Homo sapiens: one gene and its partners. The protein of the gene in region 3 interacts with the protein of the main gene of each other region in a biochemical or structural test. Each region holds a gene or a part of one and is shown on either strand. Other genes may lie near its edges.

The links.
Region 1: the proteins of FKBP5 (region 3) and OGT form a complex in vitro, tested with the Homo sapiens proteins (one large-scale study listed by BioGRID).
Region 2: the proteins of FKBP5 (region 3) and HSP90AB1 interact in a biophysical measurement, tested with the Homo sapiens proteins (2 studies listed by IntAct).
Region 4: the proteins of FKBP5 (region 3) and MAPT form a complex in vitro, tested with the Homo sapiens proteins (2 studies listed by BioGRID and IntAct, with this or other methods).
Region 5: the proteins of FKBP5 (region 3) and HSF1 form a complex in vitro, tested with the Homo sapiens proteins (one study listed by BioGRID).
Region 6: the proteins of FKBP5 (region 3) and ESR1 form a complex in vitro, tested with the Homo sapiens proteins (one study listed by BioGRID).
Region 7: the proteins of FKBP5 (region 3) and HSP90AA1 form a complex in vitro, tested with the Homo sapiens proteins (5 studies listed by BioGRID and IntAct, with this or other methods).

The regions. Positions count from the first base shown.
Region 1 is NC_000023.11:71,560,604-71,564,103, forward strand, and holds part of OGT (UDP-N-acetylglucosamine--peptide N-acetylglucosaminyltransferase 110 kDa subunit), read left to right. Parts: intron 1-1,171; coding exon 1,172-1,297; intron 1,298-2,243; coding exon 2,244-2,414; intron 2,415-2,526; coding exon 2,527-2,643; intron 2,644-2,725; coding exon 2,726-2,896; intron 2,897-3,500. UniProt on the Homo sapiens protein: Catalyzes the transfer of a single N-acetylglucosamine from UDP-GlcNAc to a serine or threonine residue in cytoplasmic and nuclear proteins resulting in their modification with a beta-linked N-acetylglucosamine (O-GlcNAc).
Region 2 is NC_000006.12:44,250,101-44,254,383, reverse strand, and holds the end of HSP90AB1 (heat shock protein HSP 90-beta), read right to left. Parts: coding exon 4,230-4,283; intron 4,094-4,229; coding exon 3,785-4,093; intron 3,337-3,784; coding exon 3,171-3,336; intron 2,967-3,170; coding exon 2,776-2,966; intron 2,648-2,775; coding exon 2,500-2,647; intron 2,386-2,499; coding exon 2,117-2,385; intron 1,340-2,116; coding exon 1,006-1,339; intron 896-1,005; coding exon 786-895; 3' UTR 501-785; downstream 1-500. UniProt on the Homo sapiens protein: Molecular chaperone that promotes the maturation, structural maintenance and proper regulation of specific target proteins involved for instance in cell cycle control and signal transduction. Undergoes a functional cycle linked to its ATPase activity.
Region 3 is NC_000006.12:35,640,416-35,643,915, forward strand, and holds part of FKBP5 (peptidyl-prolyl cis-trans isomerase FKBP5), read right to left. Parts: intron 2,429-3,500; 5' UTR 2,410-2,428; coding exon 2,305-2,409; intron 1-2,304. UniProt on the Homo sapiens protein: Immunophilin protein with PPIase and co-chaperone activities. Component of unligated steroid receptors heterocomplexes through interaction with heat-shock protein 90 (HSP90).
Region 4 is NC_000017.11:45,992,054-45,995,553, reverse strand, and holds part of MAPT (microtubule-associated protein tau), read right to left. Parts: intron 1,631-3,500; coding exon of another isoform or gene 1,577-1,630; intron 1-1,576. UniProt on the Homo sapiens protein: Promotes microtubule assembly and stability, and might be involved in the establishment and maintenance of neuronal polarity.
Region 5 is NC_000008.11:144,311,912-144,315,220, forward strand, and holds the end of HSF1 (heat shock factor protein 1), read left to right. Parts: intron 1-51; coding exon 52-333; intron 334-716; coding exon of another isoform or gene 717-800; intron 801-1,599; coding exon 1,600-1,705; intron 1,706-1,934; coding exon 1,935-2,000; intron 2,001-2,073; coding exon 2,074-2,143; intron 2,144-2,213; coding exon 2,214-2,419; 3' UTR 2,420-2,809; downstream 2,810-3,309. UniProt on the Homo sapiens protein: Functions as a stress-inducible and DNA-binding transcription factor that plays a central role in the transcriptional activation of the heat shock response (HSR), leading to the expression of a large class of molecular chaperones, heat shock proteins (HSPs), that protect cells from cellular insult damage.
Region 6 is NC_000006.12:151,838,682-151,842,181, reverse strand, and holds part of ESR1 (estrogen receptor), read right to left. Parts: intron 1-3,500.
Region 7 is NC_000014.9:102,080,242-102,084,044, forward strand, and holds the end of HSP90AA1 (heat shock protein HSP 90-alpha), read right to left. Parts: intron 3,743-3,803; coding exon 3,552-3,742; intron 3,453-3,551; coding exon 3,305-3,452; intron 3,062-3,304; coding exon 2,793-3,061; intron 2,204-2,792; coding exon 1,870-2,203; intron 1,581-1,869; coding exon 1,471-1,580; 3' UTR 501-1,470; downstream 1-500. UniProt on the Homo sapiens protein: Molecular chaperone that promotes the maturation, structural maintenance and proper regulation of specific target proteins involved for instance in cell cycle control and signal transduction.

The DNA of each region.
Region 1 (3,500 bases), on a different chromosome or scaffold from region 3:
GTATATATATATGAATCACTGAAGTCCTAGCAGAAAGGTTTTGAGACTTCTCATTTAATAAATAGTATGTACTAACAAATTTTGCAGTATAGCTGTTGCTTCAAAAGTATACCTGGCCATTTTTGATACACAGTTGGACTCTTTGTGACCAAGAAGCATACCTCTTTCTACCTCTGAGACCTTTAGGGACTCACTGCTGATTGATTGCAGTCTAAACTCTTCAGCATAGCTTTTGTAACCTTTCTCTGTTTGCCACAACTTTGTCAATACTTTAACTCACCATTCAACATCTTGTATACCCTATACTAAATAGAAGTGAATTACTCACCCTTTTTTTTTTTGAGATGGAGTTTTGCTCTTGTCGCCCAGGGTGGAATGCAGTGGCACGATCTCGGCTCACTGCAATCTTTGCCTCCCAGGTTCAAGCGATTCTCTTGCCTCAGCCTCCCGAGTAGCTGGGATTACAGGCGCCTGCCACCACACCCGGCTAATTTTTGTATTTTTAGTAGAGACGGGGTCTCACCACATTGGCCAGGCTGGTCTCGAACTCCTGACCTCAGGTGATCCACCTGCCTCGGCCTCCCAAAGGGCTGGGATTACAGATGTGAGCCACCATGCCCGGCCTACTCACCATTTTCTAAACTCCCTCACACTTTACTCTAGTTCTTCATTCATACTGTTCTCTACTGAGATTGTATTCTGTTAAACTCCTTCAAACTCCTATTCGTCTTTGAAGACCTATTTTCAAATACCAATTCTAGGCTGGGTGCTGTGGCTCACGTGTATAATCCTTTGGGAGGCTGAGGTGGAAGGATTGCTTGAGACCATCATGGGCAACATAGTGAGACCCCATCCCTACCAAAAAAAAAAAAAAGATTACAAATTTCAAATACCAATTTCTCTGTGATATGTTGTTATTCATACATTCAATCCAGAAGTGAACTCTCCTTCCTTTGTGTTCTGTTTCTTTAATGCTTTGGGCCCATTTTAATGACAGTCAACCATATTTGTGCCCGAATTAATGTAGTTAATTTGTGTTCTTACCTCTTTTCCATCTGGGAATCTGAATTATGTTAAATGCCATTAAAACTAAATGCCATTAAAACTAAATGTCATTAAAACTAATTGATCTGAGATTATACATAGTGAGTTCTTATTTTGTATTCTGTAGATTCCATGCAATGGAAAAGCAGCTGATCGCATCCATCAGGATGGAATTCATATCCTTGTAAATATGAATGGCTATACTAAGGGCGCTCGAAATGAGCTTTTTGCTCTCAGGCCAGCTCCTATTCAGGTAAACAAATTAACAGTCATCACTTATAACATGTATTTGGCTAAGAATACAGTGAGGTGCTGCTTTTCCTCCCTCTGGTTAACTGATATTTGAAACTGTAGGGCAGACATACTTTTAATTTTTTTAAGTTGTTGAAATGCACAGGACAAAAAGAGTGTAGAGCACAGTGCTTATAGGTACATGTATATAGAGACATGCAATTCATGGTTGGCTATGAACAGTTACTCTGTCTTGCAAATTTGAAGAACATTTTAGCATTTTGAAAGTTAGTCTGAAATACAGGCCGGGTATGGTGGCTCACGCCTGTAATCCCAGCACTTTGGGATGCTTAGGCAGGAGGATCTCTTGAAACCAGGAGTTTGAGTCCTGCCTGGGCAACAAAGCAAAACACCCTATCTCTACAAAAAATTAAAAAATTAGCCAGAGTGGTGGTGTGCCTCTGTGATCCCAGCTATTTGGGAGGCTAAGGTGGAAGGATTGCTTAAGCTTAGGAGTTTGAGGCTGCAGTGAACTATCACTATGCCACTGCACTCCAGCCCAGGTGACAGAGTAAGAGTCTCTCTTATAGAACTGCTTCATTGCTTTCGGCTAAAGAAGTCAGCCTTGCTGTGCGTGTGGCAAGTGCCTGTAATCCTGGCTACTCTGGAGGCTGAGGCAGAAGGATTGCTTGAGCCCAGGAGTTTGAGGCTGTAGTGATCTACGATTGCACCACTGTATTCCAGCCTAGGGAACAGAGTGAGATCCTGTCTCTAAAAAAGAGTTAGACCTCCTTGTTTATTTACTTATTTAATTTTGGCACCTTTAGGTTCTTTTTTTAAAAACCACTTTATTGAGGTACAGTTGACATACAAAAAGTTGTACATATTTAATGTATGTGACTTGATGAATTTAGAGGTAAGTGTACTGATAAAAGTTCTTAATCAGTTTTTGATCTGATTTTTTTAAGGCAATGTGGCTGGGATACCCTGGGACGAGTGGTGCGCTTTTCATGGATTATATTATCACTGATCAGGAAACTTCGCCAGCTGAAGTTGCTGAGCAGTATTCCGAGAAATTGGCTTATATGCCCCACACTTTTTTTATTGGTGATCATGCTAATATGTTCCCTCACCTGAAGGTAGGTATGAAACAGTGCTATGGACGAATTTCAAAGAACTGTAGCTTTTTATTTCCTTGCTATTGTCTATGTAAATCCTAAAAGACATGTCTGAAACTATTTTTTCCATTAGAAAAAAGCAGTCATCGATTTTAAGTCCAATGGGCACATTTATGACAATCGGATAGTTCTGAATGGCATCGACCTCAAAGCATTTCTTGATAGTCTACCAGATGTGAAAATTGTCAAGGTCAGAACCTAGTCAGTATTGTCATTGAAATAAAGTTAACTGCATTCACGATCTTTTCCCTAATGATGCATTTTTTTTTCAGATGAAGTGTCCTGATGGAGGAGACAATGCAGATAGCAGTAACACAGCTCTTAATATGCCTGTTATTCCTATGAATACTATTGCAGAAGCAGTTATTGAAATGATTAACCGAGGACAGATTCAAATAACAATTAATGGATTCAGTATTAGCAATGGACTGGCAACTACTCAGGTGAGAAGATAATAATACACCATTATATGTCCCGCCAAGTATGCATTTATTTCCCTTAACCTCATGATAACTCTAGGAGGCAAGTATCATTATCACCATTTTTATGGATGAGGAAATGAGTTTAGTGGAAACGTGCATCTTATATAGGTGTGTCTGATTTTAAAAGTCTCCTGGATTCAGCCAGCAGATTATTACTTACTGAGAAACTGCTGTGTTAATATCTTGTTATTCCCTGCCTGTGGCTTTACTCTCTTACATGATGAACTATGTGTAGATTCCATACAGTTTCTTGCTTCTGTAAACCCATCCTTTCCCTAGCTAAATCCTACTCAAACGTTCAGTTCAGACAGCTCTTCCAGGAATCCATTTCCGTACTTACCGCTAACGTCTCCATCCCTACTTCATTGGTACCTGTCTTTTATACCTCTGTAATGTTTGGAATATATCATTACATACAGCACAACAGATGATAATTCCCTGTGTTTGTATCCTCTACTGAATTGAATTACTGAGCCCATGTCTTAATCACAGTAATGTAGTATGTACTCAATAAATAATATATTGCATGCTTAAATAAGTAGCTCTATCAAGAGAGTGTAAGGCA
Region 2 (4,283 bases), 8.6 Mb from region 3:
TGCTCTGCCACCTTCCAGACTCACTCCCCTCTGCAAATACCTGCATTTCTTACCCTGGTGAGAAAAGCACAAGCGGTGTAGGCTCCAATGCTGCTTTCCCAGGAGGGTGAAGATGGTGCTGTGCTGAGGAAAGGGGATGCAGAGCCCTGCCCAGCACCACCACCTCCTATGCTCCTGGATCCCTAGGCTCTGTTCCATGAGCCTGTTGCAGGTTTTGGTACTTTAGAAATGTAACTTTTTGCTCTTATAATTTTATTTTATTAAATTAAATTACTGCAGTGGACTTGGTCCTGTGTTTTGGTTGACTGAAAGGGCATTATTATATGGTAGTTTTTCCAAACTGCCTTTAGCTTCAGTGTGTGAACTCTTAAGACTCACTGGTATTCTGTTATTTTCACTACAAAACCAGCTCAACTTGCTGTGCTCATGAAAACAGCAAGAGCTGGAGGGATGAAGAAGCTAGGGAAGGATAACATCCACTTCACAAGGGAAAGCAGAACTGTATAAAAACGGCATATTCTTTATTTTGCATACTTTAATTTCAGAACAAAATGAAGAAAATAAAATAAACCACAATACACAACATCCAATCCTGCTGTCAAGAGTAGAGAGGGAATGGGGCTTGACACCCTTAGTTTACTGCCTTCAACACAAGGACAGGAGAGGGAAAAAAACACTAGACACCAGCAGGGGGAGCCAGGTGGGACAGGGGCACTCGAGGCTGCAGTGGGAGCCCATGGGGACACTATACAAGGGCACAAGTTTTCCAACTATGAACTCCTAACCTAATCGACTTCTTCCATGCGAGACGCATCCTCATCGCCCTCGAGAGGGGGGATCTCATCAGGAACTGCAGCATTGGGTTCCTCTGCTGCCACTTCATCTTCATCAATACCTGAAGTAAAATTAAGCCATGTGAGACTTGACCAAATAGCATTAAGTCAAATCCATAGAGGAGACGAGTTGCACAAACTCCTTGCCACACCAAGTACCAAAGCTACTTACCTAGACCTAGCTTGATCATGCGATAGATGCGGTTGGAGTGGGTCTGGGGATCCTCAAGGGAAAAGCCAGAAGATAGCAGGGCGGTTTCAAACAGCAGCACCACCAGGTCCTTAACTGCCTTATCATTCTTGTCGGCCTCAGCCTTCTGCCGCAGCGTCTCCACAATGGGGTGGTCAGGGTTGATCTCCAGGTGCTTTTTGGCCATCATATAGCCCATGGTGGAGTTGTCCCGAAGTGCCTGGGCTTTCATGATCCGCTCCATATTGGCTGTCCAGCCGTAGGTGCTGGTCACAATGCAGCAAGGTGAAGACACAAGTCTATTGGAGATTGTCACCTGTGGACGATCACAAAAGCCTTAGATTGACATTACCACTTTGAAAGAGAAAACAGGCATTGTCAAGCCTAATTCCAGCAGGGGGAGGAGGTGGACAGACCACTTGAGTTTGAGACCATGCTGGCCAACATGGCAAAACCCTGTCTACAAAAAATTAACCGGGTGTGGTAGCACACATCTGTAATCCCAGCCACTCAGGAGACTTGAGTTTGCAGTGAGCGAGATCCAGTCCAAAAAAAAAAAAAATCGGCCAGGCATGGTGGCTTGCGCCTGTTAATCCCAGCACTTTGGGAGGCCGAGGTGGGCGAATCACAAGGTCAGGAGATGGAGACCATCCTGGCTAACGCGATGAAACCCCATCTCTACTAAAAATACAAAAAATTAGCCGGGGTGTGGTGGCGGGCGCCTGTAGTGGCAGCTACTCAGGAGGCTAAGGCAGGAGAATGGCGTGAACCCAGGAGGCGGAGCTTGCAATGAGCAGAGATCGTGCCACTGCACTCCAGCCTGGGTGACAGAGCGAGACCCCATCTCAAAAAAAGAAAAAAAAAAGAAAATGATGGTATTTTATCTACTCTCAGAAGTTAACTGAAGCAATGCCTAATCTGTGCCAAATTTTATTAAAATAGCCTTAAACCTGACTAGAGAAGAGAACAAGAGGCAAGAAGGCATGAAACAGTAAATAGGCTGCCTCAAACCACTAATTGTATAGAAACATGCTTGTGAGGGAGCCCACCTCGAAGATGTTACAAAATATATCCTAGCCCCAGAATGGCTTACCTTCTCAACCTTCTTATCTAAGATTTCTTTCATGAGCTTGCAGAGGTTCTCAAACTTTGCCTTGCTCTCTTCCATCTTCTTCTTCTCCTCCTCATCCTCAGGCAGCTCCAGACCCTCCTTGGTAACTGAGACCAGGCTCTTCCCATCAAATTCCTTGAGCTGCTGCACACAGTACTCGTCAATGGGCTCGGTCATATATACCACCTCGAAGCCCCGTTTCCGCACTCGCTCCACAAAAGCTGAGTTGGCCACCTGCTCTTTGCTCTCACCTGTAGGGTAATTAAATGAACTCAGTGACTAAAATGCCTCATACTGCCAGTTCCCAGGAAGCCCTAATTGTGCTCCCCACTCCTCCAAAAAGGCTTCAATCAGAGTCAACGCACCAGTGATGTAATAGATGGACTTCTGTGTCTCCTTCATGCGAGAAACATACTCTGACAGAGATGTCATCTCATCTCCAGACTGGGAGGTATGATAGCGCAGCAGCTCAGACAGGCGGCGGCGGTTAGTGGAGTCTTCGTGGATTCCAAGCTTGAAGGGTGGGAAGAGGAAAAACAATCCAGCTTAACTACAATAACTTCACTTTCAATGTGAATGGAATAATTTATTGTTATTACTAAGAAAGTGGTAAAGGGAATAAGCATTATTTGCCTTTTTACCTTGAGATTTTTAGAGAATGCCTCATAGAATTTCTTGTAATTCTCCTTGTCTTCTGCCAGCTCAGAGAAGAGCTCAAGGCACTTCTTAACAATGTTTTTGCGAATGACTTTCAAGATTTTGCTCTGCTGGAGCATTTCTCGGGAGATGTTCAGGGGCAGATCCTCAGAGTCAACCACACCACGGATAAAATCTGCCATCAACCAGGGTGAGAAAGCTCAGTAAAAAACAGCTAGACCAGACCTGGTCCCCAGATTCAAACAGAAGGCTCTAATAGCCTCCTGAACCCTTACACCTACTATGTATTGCAGAAAACTGTTACCTTAGAATATCCTAGCAGAATGCCTAAAACCTCCCAAGACTTCACCCAACTAAATTAGGCCAAGGAGATACTCACTGAGATACTCTGGTATCAACTCATCACAGCTGTCCATGATGAACACACGGCGGACATAGAGTTTGATGTTGTTCTTTTTCTTCTTGTTCTCAAAAAGGTCAAAGGGAGCCCGACGAGGAATAAATAGCAATGCCCTGAATTCCAACTGACCTTCTACAGAAAAGTGCTGAAAGAAACCAAAAATAAGTGGTACATTTCAAAAGAGGACCTTTTAGCCCCAACACCAAATTATCTAAAAGTGGAACAATGATCCTCCCTAAGCCTAAGGGATAGAGCACACACAACAAGCAGCTCCTGAGAAAACTGAGCCTTAATGCCCTCCACGATCTAGATGGGTACTAGCTGTATGTAGAAAACAGTCCCCTCTGATCAGAACCCTGGATGTGTAAGGCTGCCAATAGACATTACCCAGATTTCCATAAGAAGAGAAAGTGAGGTCATTAGAAATGATGGCACTTCACTATGACAGGGTAATCAGTAAGTGAAATCACATGGCTATCACATTTCTGTTATCAGTTGGACAAGTTCCGTGTGTCTATTACCCAACACTCTTCCACCTAACTCATTCCTCTCCATATGTGCATGTTGAGCCAACATGCAAAGGCTTCTCACACCTTGACTGCCAAGTGGTCTTCCCAGTCATTAGTGAGGCTCTTGTAGAATTCTCCATACTCCTCTTGGGTGATGTCATCAGGGTTTCTGGTCCAAATAGGCTTGGTCTTGTTTAGTTCTTCCTGATCAATGTATTTCTCTTTGATCTTCTTAGTTTTCTTCTTCTTATCCTTACCGCTGTCATCCTCCTCATCTGAACCCACATCTTCGATCTTGGGTTTTTCTTCATCATCTTTATCTTCCTCTTCTTTCTCACCTTTCTCTTCCTCTGCCTCATCATCACTAATTTCCTTCTCTCGTTCCTTCTCCAACTAAGTAACAAAAACAGAAGTTAGCCTTGGAGTACAAAACACTACCAGGGAAAGCAAAAGCCAGGGACAATGAGATTCTCCAGAACAGGAAACATCCTGCACGTTAAGTGTAAAAGATTTAAAAGTCCATACTCACATAAAGGGTGATGGGATAGCCTATGAACTGAGAATGCTTCTTCACTACTTCTTT
Region 3 (3,500 bases):
AGAACACTTACCATGAATGGAACTTGCAGGACTGGAAGTTGTTCTGGATGAGTCAGCGAGTGAGCAGTGAGTGAACATGAAGGCCTAGGATATTACCATACACTACCGTAGACTTTATAAACACTGGACACCTAGACTACATTTATTTTAAAATTTTTCTTCTTTCTTTAATAATAAATCAATCTTAGCTTACTATAACATTTTTACTGTGTAAACTTTTTTTTTAGCTTTGACTCTTGTAATGACACTTAGAACACAAACACTGTACAGCTGTACAAAAATATTTTCTTTCTTTATATCCTTATTCTATAAGCATTTTTCTGTTTTTTAAATTTTTTATTCTTTTACTTTTTAAACTTTTTTTTGTTTAAAACTAAGACACAAACACATACATAAACCTAGGCCTACAGAGGGTCAGGATCATCAGTATCACTGTCTTCCACCAACACATCTTGTCCCACTGGAAGGTCTTCAGGACAGTAACATGCATGGAGCTGCTGTCTCCTATAATAACAATGCCTTCTTCTTGAATACCTCCTGAGGGACCTGCCCAAGGCTGTTTTTTGTTTGTTCATTTGTTTTTGAGACAGGATCTCACTCTCACCCAGGCTAGAATGCAGTGGTATGATCATAGTTCACTGCAGCTTGGAACTCCCAGGCTTACATGATCCTCCTGCCTCAGTCTCCTGAGTAGTAGAAACTACAGGTACATGCCACTATGCCTGGCTAATTTTTTTAATTTTTTTTCTACAGATAGGGGTCTTACTATGTTGCCCAGGCTGGTCTTGAACTCCTGGCCTCAAGTGATCCTCTTGCTTTGGCCTCCCAGGGTGCTGGGATTACAGGCATGAGCCACTGCACTCAGCCAAGGGTGTTTTACAGTTAACTTTTTAAAAAATAAGAAGCACACTCTAAAATAATGATAGAAAGTATAGTAAACACATAAACCAGTAATATAAACATTTATTATCAAGTATTATGTACTATACATAACTGTGACTGCAGTGCAGTAGGTTTGTTTACACCCACATCACCACAAACACATAATACACTGTACTACCCATGCTACAACAGCTATGGCACCACTAGGCCATAGGAACTTTTCGGCCCCATTATAATCTTATGGGACCACTGCTGAAGGTGCAGTCTGTCACTGACTGAAATGTCATTATATGGTGAATGACTGTATAGTGCTTTAATAAGTAGGAAAGCTAATTCAAAAGTAAGATATATTCTAAGAGGAAATCGCAAAAGATATCTTCACTGTACACAGGAACAATATTTATATATAAAAATAAACCCCTTTGGGCCGGGCACGGTGGCTCATGCCTGTAATCCCAACACTTTGCGAGGCCAAGGCAGGCGGATCACCTGAGGTCAGGAGTTCAAGACCAGCCTGGCCAACATGGTGAAACCCTGTCTCTACAAAAATTAGCGAGGCATGGTAGCAGGCGCCTGTAATCCCAGCTACTCGGGAGGCTGAGGCAGAATTGCTTGAATCCAGGAGGCGGAGGTTGCAGTGAGCTGAGATCATACCACTGCACTCTAGCCCAGGCAACAGAGGGAGACTCTGTCTCAAAATAAAATAAAATAAAATAAAATAAAATAAAATAAAATAAAATAAAACCCCTTTGAATTTTTCAAGTTAGCTTTTCTTTCCTTAAAAAGTCTTCAAAATTGTCATTAGCTAGCTTTAGTGTACTAAAAGGATACATTAAAATAGTAACCTATTTGTATACTCTGAGAATAGGGAAATATAGCCCTTTAGAGTGAGATATAACTTGGACCTGAACCCCAGGTAAATCTGCATTACTAAGATATATGATATTAGGCAAGTTAATTTACCTAGCCCAGTCTCAATTTCAACATCTATAATCTGGGATTAAAAATTAAAATCTCTAGCTGGGCACAGTGGCTCGTGCCTATAATCCCAGCTACTCAGAAGGCTGAGGTGGGAGGATTGCTTGAGGCCAGGATTTCAAGACTTGCCTGAGCAACATAATGAGATGCCCTCTCTCAAAAATTTAATTAATTAATTTAAAAAGAAAATCCCAGCTACTCAGGAAGCTGAGATGGGAAGATCACTTGAACCCAGGAGCTCAAGACCAGCCTGGGCAACATAACGAGACTCAACTCTTAAAAAAAACCTTGAAGTTATGAAGACAAAATGAGAATCTAGCTCTAGTGTTTGGCACTTAGTAACCATCAATAAACATTATCCACCCCAGCCCCCCTCAGAAAGAGATGCTATAATCTTTCCAGACAGCAGGTTTCCTTGTATGTCACTCAGCTTTGTGGCCTCACCTTTAATACTCCCCTGTCTTTTTTGGAGGTAATATCCTCTCCCTGCTCAGCAACAGTGGCTGTGGGGCTTTCTTCATTGTTCTTGGCACCTTCATCAGTAGTCATTGTCTTTTAAGTAGAGAACCTGGTAAGAAGAAAAATATTTTAGCTGGGAAAAATATCACTTCTTTATGAATCTTGAATGTCCCTGGGAACTGAGCTCTACCTAACCTAAGATTTACTTAGGGCCAATAAGCTTAGATACTGAAAATGAAAACAAAGGCATTTGCTATGAGCATGTATTGATGTCATCAGGCATGTAAATAAAACATCATCCAATTCTTTAATTTCCCATCTAGCTCTGGTCTCAAAACAGAGAACAGTACAAGTCAAGTTGGGTAGTGATTACATTCCTTAACATAACATGGTGAGAAGCAGTCCCTTCACAACTTTGAAAACATCCTTTTTCTACAGCCATATTCTTGACAGAGGATTAAGACCTTATCAGTTCTTAATAAAAGAAGTGACAATATATCAATCACAGTGAGACACAGAACAGGATTTAGAATCCAACAGACCCAAGTCTGGGTCCTAGCTGCAGCTCTTGACATTTCCAGTTTCCTTAATCTTGCTGAGCCTTCATTTTTCATCTGCAAAATGGACACAGTACACTATTCATAGTTACAGTGAGATAACATTTCTTAAAAGATTAGCATAGATTGGTAACTTAAACATATTTAACCATTTATCATCATTATTGGGCCTTCTGTAGGGTCATTTTTCATCTCCTGCCCAAAATACCTACAGAATGTTCTTCCATGTGGCATTCAAGGCCCTTCACAATCTGGCCCTAATCTATCTTTGAGTTCTAGCTGCCATTATTTTATTTTACTTTCTTTCATGCAGCTCATGCTCCAGCCAAACTAGGCCAATTCCACCTCTACAACAAACCCAGTGCTTTCCCATAGTCATTCTTCTGGTCACTCCCTTTCTTGTTTCCAAAACATCCACCTCTCTCAAATCCTACTTCTGTCATACCAACCTTGACCCTCTATTTGTAGGCCATTTTGCCCTTTTACGTACTTCCTTAGCTCTTCTCTCGATTTGTTGTCTGTAAGAGATTCATAAGACTATGCGCCTGTTAGGTTTAAAAGATCCTTCAGAGCAAGGTCCATGCTTTGTTCATATTTAGATTCCCTAGAATGCCTCTACCTTTG
Region 4 (3,500 bases), on a different chromosome or scaffold from region 3:
TGTTACTGCACTTCCCAGGCCCCCGTTACACTTCAACAGTCTGGTATTCTATCTCATGGGTCTGTATTTTCCAAAGTGTGGCCCACGGAACCCTGCGTCAGAATCTCCGGAGCTTTCAAGGAGGAAAGTGGGAGTTGCAAAATGCAAATTTCTCGATCCCCTTCAAGAGTGGATAGAGCAGAATCTCTAGGGGTGGGACCTGCAAAGCCTCATTTTTCTCAAGCTCCACAAAGACTGAAGTCTGAGAACCGCAGGCCTCACCCTGTGCCGAGGTGTGCTTAGCTCCCCTGCAGTCTGAGAACTTAGCTTTCCTGCAAGTCCAGAAGCTTCCCGCAGCAATGCCCCTGCCGCTGCCCCAGGCATTTGCTGTAACACATACCTGCTGGCCAGACCTGGAGAAGGGCAGCTCTTTGAAGCACCCATGTAGCCAATGGGCAGCTTGGCCAGTGACGAATAAGCACTAGTTTTCTTTTGTTGTTGTTTTGTTTTTTTGTGGTTTTTTTTTTGAGACGGAGTCTTATTCTGATGCCCAGGCTGGAGTGCAATGGCGTGATCTCGGCTCACTGCAACCTCCGCTGCATGGGATCAAGCGAGTCTCCTGCCTCAGCCTCCCGAGTAGCTGATATTACAGGTGTGCAGCACCACGCCTGGCTAATTTTTGTATTTTTAGTAGAGACTTATTTTAGTAGAGACTGGATTTTTGTATTTTCAGTAAAGATTTCTTTAGTAGAGGTTTTACCATGTTGGCCAGGCTGGTCTTGAACTCCTGACCTCAGGTGATCCACCCGCCTCGGCCTCCCAAAGTGCTGGGATTATAGGCATGAGCCACCGCACCCAGCCAGCACCAGTTTTTAGAATTTGACTTCCATGTCTTTTTTAAAAATAATGTTTTTTATAGAGACGGGGTCTGACTATGTTGCTCAGGCTGGTCTTGAACTTCTGGCCTCAAGCGATTCTCCCACCTCAACCTCCCAAAGTGCCGGGATTATAGACGTGAGCCACCGTGCCCTGCGGATTTCCATGTCTTGGATGTTCCTGAAGTAGTACGCTCTGTGGCAATAGGACAAACGAAGCCTCTTATTTTCCACATAAGGAAACAACAGATGGGGCCTCGGCCTCCAGGGCCTCCAGGCTCAGCCTCTCTGCCTCCTCAGACCTCCCATCCTCCTGCCTCCCTGACTTCAGAGACCCAGGGTGACCAGTGGGCTTGGTGGTGGTGGCTCCAAATACTTTTCATGCCTCTTATTTACAGAGTGGTCGTGGGCAAGTCACCTGACCTCCTTAAGCCTATGTCTTCATCTGAAACATAGGGAGACAGCCAGGCATGGTGGCTCATGCCTGTAATGCCATTGTCCCTGAAGTCAAGGAGAGCACACAGGATTAGAAAGCCCATCAGACAAACACAGCTGCGCAAACTGCACAGGGAAGAGAATTCGGACTGCTCCATCTTCAGGCTGCGAACCCTGTGTGAACCCTGCATTGCAGAAAAGGGTCCTCCCGGCTCTAGAAACACAAGCCAGTGAATGGCCACACACGCAAAGGGAGGCTGCTCCCAGCGAAGTAGGCTCCCGAGTACCTCTCTCAGATCTGGGCCCTGCAGGGGGTGGTCTTCTCTGGACTTGCTTAGTCGCTTAAAGAGAAAAATCCACGAAAGCCTTATTATCATCAGGCTTAAACAGGGCCTTAATGAGTCCTTCACGTGGCAGGCACCCACAGCTGGCCCAGCAGGGGCCCCATTCTGAAACAAGGTCGAGGGGCCCAAGGGGGAGGGTCTCTCCACCTGCAGGCAGCCACCGAAGAGCAGGTAAGACCCAAAGGGAAATGCATCACGTTGTTTCAGGTTGTTACAAAGTGTGAGTCCCCTGTAATCCCAGCACTTTGGGAGGCCGAGGTGGGCGGATCACTTGAGGTCAGGAGTTCGAGACTAGGCTGGCCAAAATGGTGAAACCCTGTCTTTACTAAAAATACAAAAATTAGCAGGGCGTGGTGGCCTGTGCCTGTAGTCCCAGCTACTCAGGAGGCTGAGGCAGGAAAACTGCTTGAATTTGGGAAGCAGAGGTTGCAGTATGCCAAGATTGTGCCACTGCACTTCAGCCTGGGTGACACAGTGAGACTCCGTCTCAAAAAAACAACAACAAAAAACAGAGTGTGAGTCAACTGGCCCGATGTTAAGTGAAAAAAAAACAGCAGGATCCAAACGCTACTTAAAATCCTGTCAAAATTCTGGGAATTATCCCTGGATCACATGTATATGAGAAAAACACCAGGCCAGAAAACACGAAGCGAAAAGACAAAAACAATGGGCCTTAGTGAATGGCCATCCTTGGGGGTGCCACTGCACGGCATGTGTGCGAGAAATGCCACCGCAAAGACACGCAGCAGGTGGTGGGCAGGCTCTGGGCAGCTCCCTCAGGCCAGGGAGAAGCAGAGTCACCAAGATCCAAGATCCAGGCCAGGCTTTGGTCACAGCCCGCAGCAAGTGCCATAGGCTGCCCGTGCCACCAAGGAGCAAGTGCAGGTCAGACACCCCTACATGGTGCAGAGTCTAAACCCAGGGGCCTGGAATACTTCACTGGGGCAATGGAAGAGAGAAGTGCTCGGGCAGGCAGGCAGGCTGTCCCTAATCCCCAAAGAGGACGACTGTTTTTTTTTTTTTTTTTTTGAGAAGGAATCTCACTTTTGTCATCCAGGCTGGAGTGCAATGGTGCGATCTCAGCTCACTGCAACCTCTGCCTCCTGGGTTCAAGTGATTCTCCTTCCTCACCCTCCTGAGAAGCTGGGATTACAGGCGCCCGCCACCACGCCCAGCTAATTATTTTGTATTTTTATTAGAGACGGGGTTTTGCCATGTTGGCCAAGCTGGTCTCGAACTCCTGACCTCAGGTGATCCGCCCACCTTGGCCTCCCAAAGTGCTGGGATTACAGGCATGAGCCACCACGCCCAGCCGCGACTGTTCTTAATAGCACTCCTGGCTGCAAAATAACTCAATGGATGCCTTACTGGGTACTCAAAATTGACTGGGTTTTACTCACAGGAGCCCAGGGCAACGGGCCCAGCCTGTGACTGCTCAGCTAAGACCCTCAGGTTTTGCAGCAGACTCCTAACGTCCCTAGCAAGTTAAGCTGCCCAGGGGTTGAGCCCTGAGTGACGTCACCCATTGTGACTTATCCAGGCTGCTGCTCTGTCTCCAGAGACATTTGTCTCCAGAGTCTCATTTGGGGACTGAAAACATGCCATGCTGGGGCTGCCTCTATGGAACCCTGGACTTGGGGCCAGAGAGGCTCCGAGAGCTGCCACTTAGTAGTCATGTGACTGCATTTTCCTCGGGTTTAAAATGAGCTGGTTAGACTCAGTCAAGCAAACTCTCAGAGGCTCGATTTCTTTCTTTTTTTTCCTTTTTCTGTATTTTTTTTTATCATGCTGCAGAATCAGCCTCAATTTCTTCATTGATAAAAAGTGAGGATTCAGGCTGGGAGTGGTGGCTCATGCCTGTAATCCC
Region 5 (3,309 bases), on a different chromosome or scaffold from region 3:
TGAGGTGGGGCTGGCCGAGACGCCAGCTCACCTGGCCCCCCTCGTGTGCAGGCCCCTATCCAGCAGCCCCCTGGTGCGTGTCAAGGAGGAGCCCCCCAGCCCGCCTCAGAGCCCCCGGGTAGAGGAGGCGAGTCCCGGGCGCCCATCTTCCGTGGACACCCTCTTGTCCCCGACCGCCCTCATTGACTCCATCCTGCGGGAGAGTGAACCTGCCCCCGCCTCCGTCACAGCCCTCACGGACGCCAGGGGCCACACGGACACCGAGGGCCGGCCTCCCTCCCCCCCGCCCACCTCCACCCCTGAAAAGTGCCTCAGCGTAGCCTGCCTGGACAAGTGAGTGCCGCCCACCCCTGGCCCCACCCACAGCGCCTGGACGCACAGCCCTGGGCTTCAGCCCCGACTGTCCCAGTGGACTGAGCAGGGCAGCTGGCGAGGCAGGACCCTACCCCCAACCTCGGAGCTCGGGGCTGGGGAGGGAGACAGGTGCCAGCCAGATCACCCCACAGTCCCAAACGCCACAGAAGCCACGGGCATGTCCGGACAGGCTGCCGGGCCCTGCTCTCAGCCACCCGTCCTGCTGCCGCCACCCTCGCCACAGGCCACGGGCCCTGGCAGGTCGTGCTGCCCAGACACATGGCAGGAGATGGTGAGCAGGGCCGGCCTCCACACCCCCAGCCCCTGCCTGCAATGGGGGCTCTTGTTTTTGTATCTTGCAGTTTGGCTCGCACTCCACAGATGTCTAGGGTCGCCCGCCTCTTCCCCTGCCCCTCTTCCTCTCCGCATGGCCAAGTCCAGCCAGGGTTAGCGCTGACCCCACTGGGGAGGGAGGAGGGCTCTGCCAGCGCTCGGGCCCTCCCACACAGCCGTGGACCAGACCCAGCCTGGCCGGGCATGAGCGTCGGGCCTGGGCGGCAGCAGCCGAGACCCCTCTGTGGCGGGGGCTCAGTGTCGTCATGGCTCCCCTGGCCACGGGCCTGTGGTCATTGCCTGTGACAGGGATGACAGGGACAGGCCTCCCTGCTCTGGCACGGCCTCTGGTGTTGGCAGGATCCAGACTGCGGTGCTGACTGCACTTCCTGTCAGGCAGGGTCTCCAGGGCACCTCTGGGACCCAGCCTGGCTGTCCGTCCCATAGCCCAGGTGTGCCCTGTGGCCTAGGGCTTTCTTGGTCACAGCCACCAGACCGTGGGTCTCATCCCCACAGCAGCACCAGGGCAGGGACTGAGCCACCCACACACTGAGCAGAGCCCCACCTGTTTTCCCAGTGCAACGGGAAACCTCACCAACCCTGAACACTGAAATCCCTGATCCTTGTGCTGGAGCTGAATACGCCCCTTGTCTCCTGGGTCCACTGCCACCAAGGCCCCCAGGCCCTCATGGCAAAGGGATGCCCAGCATAGGCCCAGCCGCACCCCTGCAGGGCACAGAGCCTCCACTGCCTTCCAGGCCGTCCTCGAATGCGCTGCCCCCTCCAGCCTGTGCAGGCGTACACGGGGGTGCAGCCTGGGGGGTACAGTCAAGGGGAGCCCTTCTCCCACAGGAGGGCATTGGGGTGTGGGGCCTGGGGCACTGGTTCAGGTACCGCCTTATCCCGGGCCAGGAATGAGCTCAGTGACCACTTGGATGCTATGGACTCCAACCTGGATAACCTGCAGACCATGCTGAGCAGCCACGGCTTCAGCGTGGACACCAGTGCCCTGCTGGACGTGAGTGGAGCCCCGCCGCCCCGCCTCCCCGCCCCGCCTCCCCGCCGCGCCGCCCCGCCTCCCCGCCCCGCCTCCCCGCCTCCCCGCGCCGCCGCCCCGCCTCCCCGCCCCGCCTCCCCGCGCCTCCCCGCCTCCCCGCCCCGCCTCCCCGCCTCCCCGCCCCGCCTCCCCGCCCCGCCTCCCCGCCCCGCCCCCGGGTGCTGTTCTGACTTCCCTCCCTCCTCCGCAGCTGTTCAGCCCCTCGGTGACCGTGCCCGACATGAGCCTGCCTGACCTTGACAGCAGCCTGGCCAGTGTGCGTAGGCGGGCGGGGGGTGAGGGGGAACGAGACCAGCGGGAGTGCTCACAATACCGTCTCCACCCCACAGATCCAAGAGCTCCTGTCTCCCCAGGAGCCCCCCAGGCCTCCCGAGGCAGAGAACAGCAGCCCGGATTCAGGTGAGCCAAGTCCCACCGGCCCCACCTCTGCCCCCAACCCCCCACCGCCTTGACACCCCCACCCCCGCAGGGAAGCAGCTGGTGCACTACACAGCGCAGCCGCTGTTCCTGCTGGACCCCGGCTCCGTGGACACCGGGAGCAACGACCTGCCGGTGCTGTTTGAGCTGGGAGAGGGCTCCTACTTCTCCGAAGGGGACGGCTTCGCCGAGGACCCCACCATCTCCCTGCTGACAGGCTCGGAGCCTCCCAAAGCCAAGGACCCCACTGTCTCCTAGAGGCCCCGGAGGAGCTGGGCCAGCCGCCCACCCCCACCCCCAGTGCAGGGCTGGTCTTGGGGAGGCAGGGCAGCCTCGCGGTCTTGGGCACTGGTGGGTCGGCCGCCATAGCCCCAGTAGGACAAACGGGCTCGGGTCTGGGCAGCACCTCTGGTCAGGAGGGTCACCCTGGCCTGCCAGTCTGCCTTCCCCCAACCCCGTGTCCTGTGGTTTGGTTGGGGCTTCACAGCCACACCTGGACTGACCCTGCAGGTTGTTCATAGTCAGAATTGTATTTTGGATTTTTACACAACTGTCCCGTTCCCCGCTCCACAGAGATACACAGATATATACACACAGTGGATGGACGGACAAGACAGGCAGAGATCTATAAACAGACAGGCTCTATGCTATGGCCTCCATGTGTTTCCTCTGTCCCAGGGTGGTGCGGTGGGTGGTGCTGCAATGAGGAGGGGCCCAGGGCACAGAAGGGCCGGGCTGCAGTGGCCTCCTGGGGGAAGACGGATGCTTGCAGCTAGCTCCGTGCCTGCCCGACTCCCCAGGACCAGCATGTGCTTGCAGTTCTTTATTGAGGGACCAGGGGTGGGCGCCTCACCTTGGCCCTGGGGGTCTCTGGTTGTCACAGGACCACCAGGAACCCCCTTCCCAAGGTGTTCGCACTCGGACAGGTGATGCGGGGCGGGCACACTGTCTTTCTGCCAGAGCCAGCACCCTGTGTAGGCACGGGGAACGGGAGCCTGTCCCGTAGCTTTAGGGTTCTCCACTCAGCCTGGTGGAGGAAGGGAAGGGGGCCTGCGCTGGGCAGTGGAGCAGGCTTTGCTGCTTTATCTGGCAGCAACAGTTTGTTCTCGAGCTCCACTGGCCAACTGATAGGGAGAGGCACAGGAGCC
Region 6 (3,500 bases), about 120 Mb from region 3:
CAGATGAACTGATGGACAACACAGAACATGTGTCAAAAAAATAACAATTCAAATTTTTACGTCATTGCCACATAACCCTGGATATCAGTTTTTATAACTTGAATAATGTAATTTGAAAATACTGTTCTTCAATATTCAAAACTCCTCTTTAGGAACATGTAGAGACTGAGCATGGTGGTTCATGCCTGGAATCCCAGCACTTTGGGAGGCCAAAGCAGGAGAATTGTTTAAGCCCTGTAGTTTGAGCCCAGCCTGCACAATATAGCAAGACTCCATCTCTATAAAAATGCTTCTTAAAAAAATTAGCTGAGAATGGTGATGTGTGACTGTAGTCCTAGCTACTTGTAAGGCTGAGGTGGGAGAATCACTTGAGCCTAGGATGTCGAGGCTGCAGTAGGCTATGATTGATCATGACAACTCCAGACTGCGTGAAAATCAGAGGAACACAGAAAAAAAAAATGTAGAAAGAGAGACAATCAGAGGAACACAGAAAGGAAACTGAAAATGAACAGTAAGAAAATTCTAGGAAAACCAAGAAAATAAGGAAGTAAAATGCTTTAAGAAAGTAGAAAGCTAAAAAAAAATGTAGGAAGAGAAGAGGAACACAGAAAGGAAGCTGAAAATGAACAGTAAGGAGATTCTAGGAAAACCAAGAAAATAAGGAAGTAAAATGCTTTAAGTAGAAAGGTTTATGGAGAGGATGATCAAGAATGGCAAATGGGGCAGAGAAGTCCAACAAAGCAAAGACTGGTTAAGTGAATTCAGACCTGACAAAGCAGACTCTTAGCAAGGAGTTTCCTTAGACAGGTACAGGCACAAGCCAAAATTCAGCAGATGGAATGTAAGGAGATGAAAATGAGGGAAGGCATTCCTTTGAGAACTTGGAGGAGAATAGGAAAAGATACAGATAGGGTGGCAGCTGAAGAATATAAGACCCAAGAAAATGAATTTTTTAGAATGAAGAGACTTGAGAAGGCCTCGTGTAGACTGAAGGGCATGGGCCAGGAGAAAGGGAATGTTTGAAAGCACAAAGAGGAAGATAAAAGAATAAAGCCAAGAAGGAAACTAGAGGAGTTGGGATTAAAAACACAGGTAAAAGAAATTGCCTCAATGAAGACAACTTGAAGAAGACTGGAAGGAAGGAGGTAAGGAAAGTAGAGGAAGATGAGTTTGCATCTCTCGCCAGACCAGACATAGGAGTAGATGTTATATTGGCCCAGGACTTGGCAGGCATGTGCAATCAAATAAAGGTGGAATAAGAGCCCAGCACAGTACCTGGCATGTAGTTGGCACTCCATAATATATTTAAATGAATGGAGAGAGTGTTCAAAGTTGTATAAGAAAGAAAGGTAGGCAGACATTGAAAGTATAGATGGAGTGAAGGTTCCTGTGAACATTTTTTAAAAAATGAAAATCCTAAGATGAGCTAAAGTCAATTGATGATAGCCCTTCCAGCAGGGTCTCTTGGCAAAGGAAGCTCAAGCTTCCTGCTTCCAGTCCCCACCCAAATACCCGAACCACACTGACTTTCACTGGCGCTCCCCTTCACAAGCCCTGTCTTTCCTTTTAGCCCAAATTGTATAACCTCTCCCTGCCTTCTCAGTCATTATTATGGTTCACAATTTTGTGGTAGTGGTTCTCAAACTACATTTGCCATAATATTCACAAAATATTGGCTCCTTGGGTTGAGTACGTCTGACTTTGCCAATTTCGTCCATTCTAAATAACTTAGTTCTGAGGTTGGCAGCCTCAAATAGGAATTCTTTATTTTTTAATGTTCATTAGAGAGCACTGGCTCACAGTTTTCAATTCTAGTTCATATTCTGTTACCCATCTCTTTCCATTTCACCACCATGCTGTTGAACCCACCCCCATCAACCTCAAATCTTTTTATTGCTTGTTTACTAATATCCTATGCATGATTCAAGTCAGTAGGAAGCAGCTATGAATATCTAACTGTAGAAGCTTAGTGCCTTTGGAGGTGGGAGTAGATATTTAGCAAGCATGAAATTGATAGATTCAATGTCTTATAAGCCTTATTAATTGTTATATCTAGCTCAGTGCCCAGCACATAGCAAGCATTCAATACATGTTTGTTGAATGAATGAAGGAATAAGTGAGTGAACAGTATACGCATGGCCAGAAGTTCCAATGTGTCAAGTATCTTCCCACCCACGCCTACATAATAAAATGCTATATTTTTTAAATTGTGGTAAGATATATATAACACAAAATTTACCATCGTAACCACGCTTAAGTGTTCATCAATTCAATCATGTTAGATATACTCACATCATCGTGCAACCAGTCTTCAGAACATTTTCATTTCACAAAACTGAAACTCCATACCCATTCAACAATAATTCCCCATTTTCTCCTTCCCCTATCCCCTAGCAGCCACCAATCTACTTTTGTTCTCTGTGAATGTGGCAATTCTAGATACCTCATTAAGTGAAACCCTACTTTTGCTTTTTGTGTCTAGCATATTTCACTTAGGATAATGTCCTGAAGGTCCATGATGTGACTAATATGCCATTGTCTGTATATACTACACAGACTTTGTTTACCCATTCATCCATCTATAGACATCTGGATTGCTTCTACTTTTTGGCTATTATGAATAATGTTGCTATAACTATGAGTATACAAATATTTCTTCAAGACCCAGATTTTTAATTCTTTTAGATATATACCCAGAAGTAGAATTACTGGATCATATGATAATTCTATTTTGATTTTTTGAGGAATCACCAGTGTTTTCCACAGTGGCTGCACCATTTTACATTCTCATGAACAAGGCACAAGGTTTCTATTTGCTCTATATCCTCTCCAACACTTACTCTCTTCTTTTTCTAATATAGTAGCCATCCTAATGAGTGCGAGGGGAATACTGCATTTTTATGTCTTTTGCCTGAATGCCTCCCTTACCAGCCACTCCTAATCCCCATAAACTTGAATCAACATCCCTGTTCTGAACTCTCTAGAAGATTTTTTTATTTCTCTTCTGCTACTTACTATATTAATCTTCAATTGATTAATTCTCATTTCCATTACTATCTGCAAAGTTCTTGGTGTCTTATTCATCTTTAAAATGCCATGTGCTTAGAGCATAGTGCCTCACTTGGAATAGGGACTCAACAACATTGATATCAAATGACTGAATCAATAAATGTATAGTTTCCACAATATAGATAGAATATGTAAATACTATTTTTATAAATATTGACAAAAGATTTAATAGCGAGAGCCCATTTTCCTCAGAAATAGCAAAGATGTATGCTGTCAGCAAAATGCCATTCATCTACATTTTATCTCTAAGATGACCCCCAGCTTACTGAAAATCAACTGCAGACTTTGGGCATAGAAATAGAAGGCATCTAAAGAAGACGGGGAAACTACATGGGCTATATTCACTAACCATAAAGGAACTTTTTTAGCCAACTTAGAAATCCATGTAAATAACATTGTCAATTATCATTTTGGCCCAGACTTACTCCATA
Region 7 (3,803 bases), on a different chromosome or scaffold from region 3:
TCCTCCTGTATATTATCGAAGGGGATTAAGAACTTTTCAGAGAATTTAAAGGACTAAACGTGATTGCCATTTACCAAGCATTCAATACCTGCTTAGCACGAGACTGAGACAAGGTCTCTCCCTGCCTGTGCACTGCCCCCTTAGACACTGTCACATATCCAAGTCCCAGGCATTTCCTATCATTTTTATATATGGCGTTAGGCTCAGAATGCAAATCCTATATGCTATCTAACCAAGTTTTGTCTCTAGAACCACCAAATTTCAGAAGTGAAGACTTTTATTTAGCCATTACCACCCCCAGTCCCCAGAGGGACTCTTACCTATTGGGCTGATTTTTTCATCTTTTTTTTGAGATGGAGTTTCGCTCTTGCTGCTCAGGCTGCAGCGCAATGGTGCAATCCCAGCCCACCGCAACCTCCGCCTCCCAGGTTCAAGCGATTCTCCTGCCTCAGCCAGGATGGCTTTAAGTAGATTTGTAAAGAACTTTGAGACACTGTAAGGCCAAGGAATTAAGTGACTGTATTTAACACAGAAGGTATTCCATGAATAACATCAAAACAACGTGGACACTAAGAGAACACATGTAACTCATGGACGCAGGGGATGCATGTTGTCTGCATTCCTGTTTTCTGTGCCTACGTGTGCTCCACCCCACACCTGCTGAGTACATGCTGGGAAGACCATGTCAACCCTTGGAGCAGCTAGTGTTTAACCATCTCCTGCTAGCGCCTCATGTTTTACATTTTGGCACTAACTGTCATCCAGATACTCCCCTTTCCCCCTAAATAAGACACTGTCACACAATATCTTTTAACTCATCTGTATTTGTTACAACTTTAAGCAGAATGTGACTCGAGCACTACATTTCCATCCACAAGACTGGGTCTGAGTTATTTTTGAACAGCTTTACGATATGCTTAGGTAGGCTTTTAACTTTGCTCCTCCAAACAATACTTTTCTTTGGAAAACAAGCCCTGTGGAGAGATCCTTCCATCAAGTTGCTTCAGTTTAACCTATTTCTAGAGGACTAGTACATGCAGAATTGTCAACTACAGGGAATGAAAAGTTCAAAAAGTAGATCCTACAAGATGTAACGAATACTTTTCTAAACATCAAGATACAGCTCAGAACACTTCAATAACAAGATTTGGTCTACTTAGGCATCCGGCTTGACAGCTAAACACTTTAGACCACAAAGTTAACATCATGTTACATACGTCTTACAGTGCACGTTACCCCAATCTGTGAAAATAAACCAACATGAAACTCAAAAAGCATTACTAGCTCTGCTTTAGTGCCTAAGGTATCACAGCATCACTTAGTAGACAGAAATCTTATCTTCCCCTTAAAGTAGTTGTCATGCCATACAGACTTTTTAATATTAACAAAAATAAAGAAAAACATCCTTGAAAATATATTATCAGAGGAATTGTAGAGTACTGAACAGGTAAGTCATCCCTCAGCCAGAGATTAGTCTACTTCTTCCATGCGTGATGTGTCGTCATCTCCTTCAAGGGGTGGCATTTCTTCAGTTACAGCAGCACTGGTATCATCAGCAGTAGGGTCATCTTCATCAATACCTGTTTCCAAAATAAAATCCTCATATTACAAAGATTTCTTAAAGCCAGCTATTAGGGTAATACTCTTGGTTTCTATCTGCTTTCAAGACAGTATTACAGGACATATGAGTCTCAATTTCATTTCTTTGCTCTTGTAAGACCTTACTTATCCCTAAAAAAAACATACTTTAATACCTCCAAGCAGCAAGCAGGACAAGGTGCTCCAAGTTTGGATAACTGAAAGTTCACCATTTTCTTCAATGTCACGTGTGTTTATTTTCTTTTTAACATTACATAGTATAAGGCTTACCCAGACCAAGTTTGATCATCCTGTAGATCCTGTTAGCATGTGTCTGGGGATCTTCCAGACTGAAGCCAGAAGACAGGAGCGCAGTTTCATAAAGCAAGATGACCAGATCCTTCACAGACTTGTCGTTCTTATCAGCCTCTGCCTTTTGCCTTAAGGTCTCAATAATGGAATGGTCAGGGTTTATCTCCAGGTGTTTCTTTGCTGCCATGTAACCCATTGTTGAGTTGTCTCTTAGGGCTTGAGCTTTCATGATTCTCTCCATGTTTGCTGTCCAGCCATATGTGCTTGTGACAATACAGCATGGAGATGTCACCAATCGGTTTGACACAACCACCTGTAATCAAAAAGTGATGACTAGGAACCTAGAAAGATTAATTCCTAAACTTTCATTGTGAAATGAAATCTGTAGAACCCAAATTTCAATAGATCCAAAATACTATCTACTGTCAAATACAACTTAAATGTCGCATTAGGTATCCAAAGAGCACAGGTTATAATTTCATGTTTTACATGCACAATTTTTTTTTTGAGATAGAGTCTCGCTCCATCACCCAGGCTGGAGTGCAGTGGTGCGATCTTGGCTCACTGCAACCTCCGCCTCCTGGGTTCAGGCGATTCTCCTGCCTCAGCCTCCCAAGTGGCTAGGATTACAGGCCGTGCCACCACGCCTGGTTTATTTTTTTCTATTTTTAGTAGAGACTGAGTTTCACCGTGTTAGCCAGGATGGTCTCGATCTCCTGACCTTGTGATCCGCTGCCTCAGCCTCCCAAAGTGCTGGGATTGCAGGCGTGAGCCACCGCGCCCAGCCACACACAACATAGTTTTCTGTTTTAAGTTGAAAACATGCGAAAATGGGCTATGTATGACTAAGCTTGAAAGCACCTTAGAAGTATCAATGATCAGGAAATGCTGTATTCACATACCTTTTCAACTTTTTTCTCCAATATGTCTTTCATGATTTTGCAGAGGTTCTCAAACTTTGTTTTTTTCTCTTCCTGCTTCTTTTTCTCTTCTTCATCCTCTGGAAGTTCCAGGCCTTCTTTGGTGACTGACACTAAAGTCTTCCCCTCAAATTCCTTCAGCTGTTGGACACAGTACTCATCAATGGGCTCAATCATATAGATCACTTCTAAGCCATGTTTCCGAAGACGTTCCACAAAGGCTGAGTTAGCTACCTGGTCCTTGGTCTCACCTGAGGTATTACAAAGTTACTTTTAGACCTTTTAACAGTTAAGAATGGTTTCATCTAGCTCTGACTTTTCTTGCTAGCCAGATACCTAGGCAGAACCTAAGACAGAAAATGACCTAGTTCATGTTAATTATCTTGCCTAGATCAATACCAGTTGTAACAGTGCTACCTGAGTAGAAAACACACCCACAGAGCCTACAAGATTGTAAGAACGACGTGTATGACTGTAACATAGTGTTCTCTTACCTGTGATATAATAGATATGTTTCTGGTTCTCCTTCATTCTGGTGCAGTAGTCCTTGAGAGAAACCATCTCATCACCAGAGGCAGATGTGTAGTACCTTAACAGCTCTGAAAGCTTCTTCCGATTTTGAGAGTCTTCGTGTATTCCAAGCTGAAACAAAGTATGTTCTTTACAAAGACTTTCTGAATTAAAAAAAAAAAAAAAAAACTAAAGAGGCCAATTGGAAAACTAATGGTTATTTACACCAACCTTTATGTTTTTAGAGAACTGCTCATAGAATTTCTTGTAGTTCTCTTTATCTTCCGCCAGTTCAGTAAAGAGTTCTAAGCATTTTTTGACCAAATTCTTCCTGATAACTTTCAAAATTTTGCTTTGTTGCAACATCTCACGGGATATGTTTAGAGGGAGATCCTCCGAGTCTACCACCCCTCTAATGAAGTCTGAAAAAAATATAAACCAAATGCACTGAGTCATTCCAAGGACAAAACTGGTACTATGTAA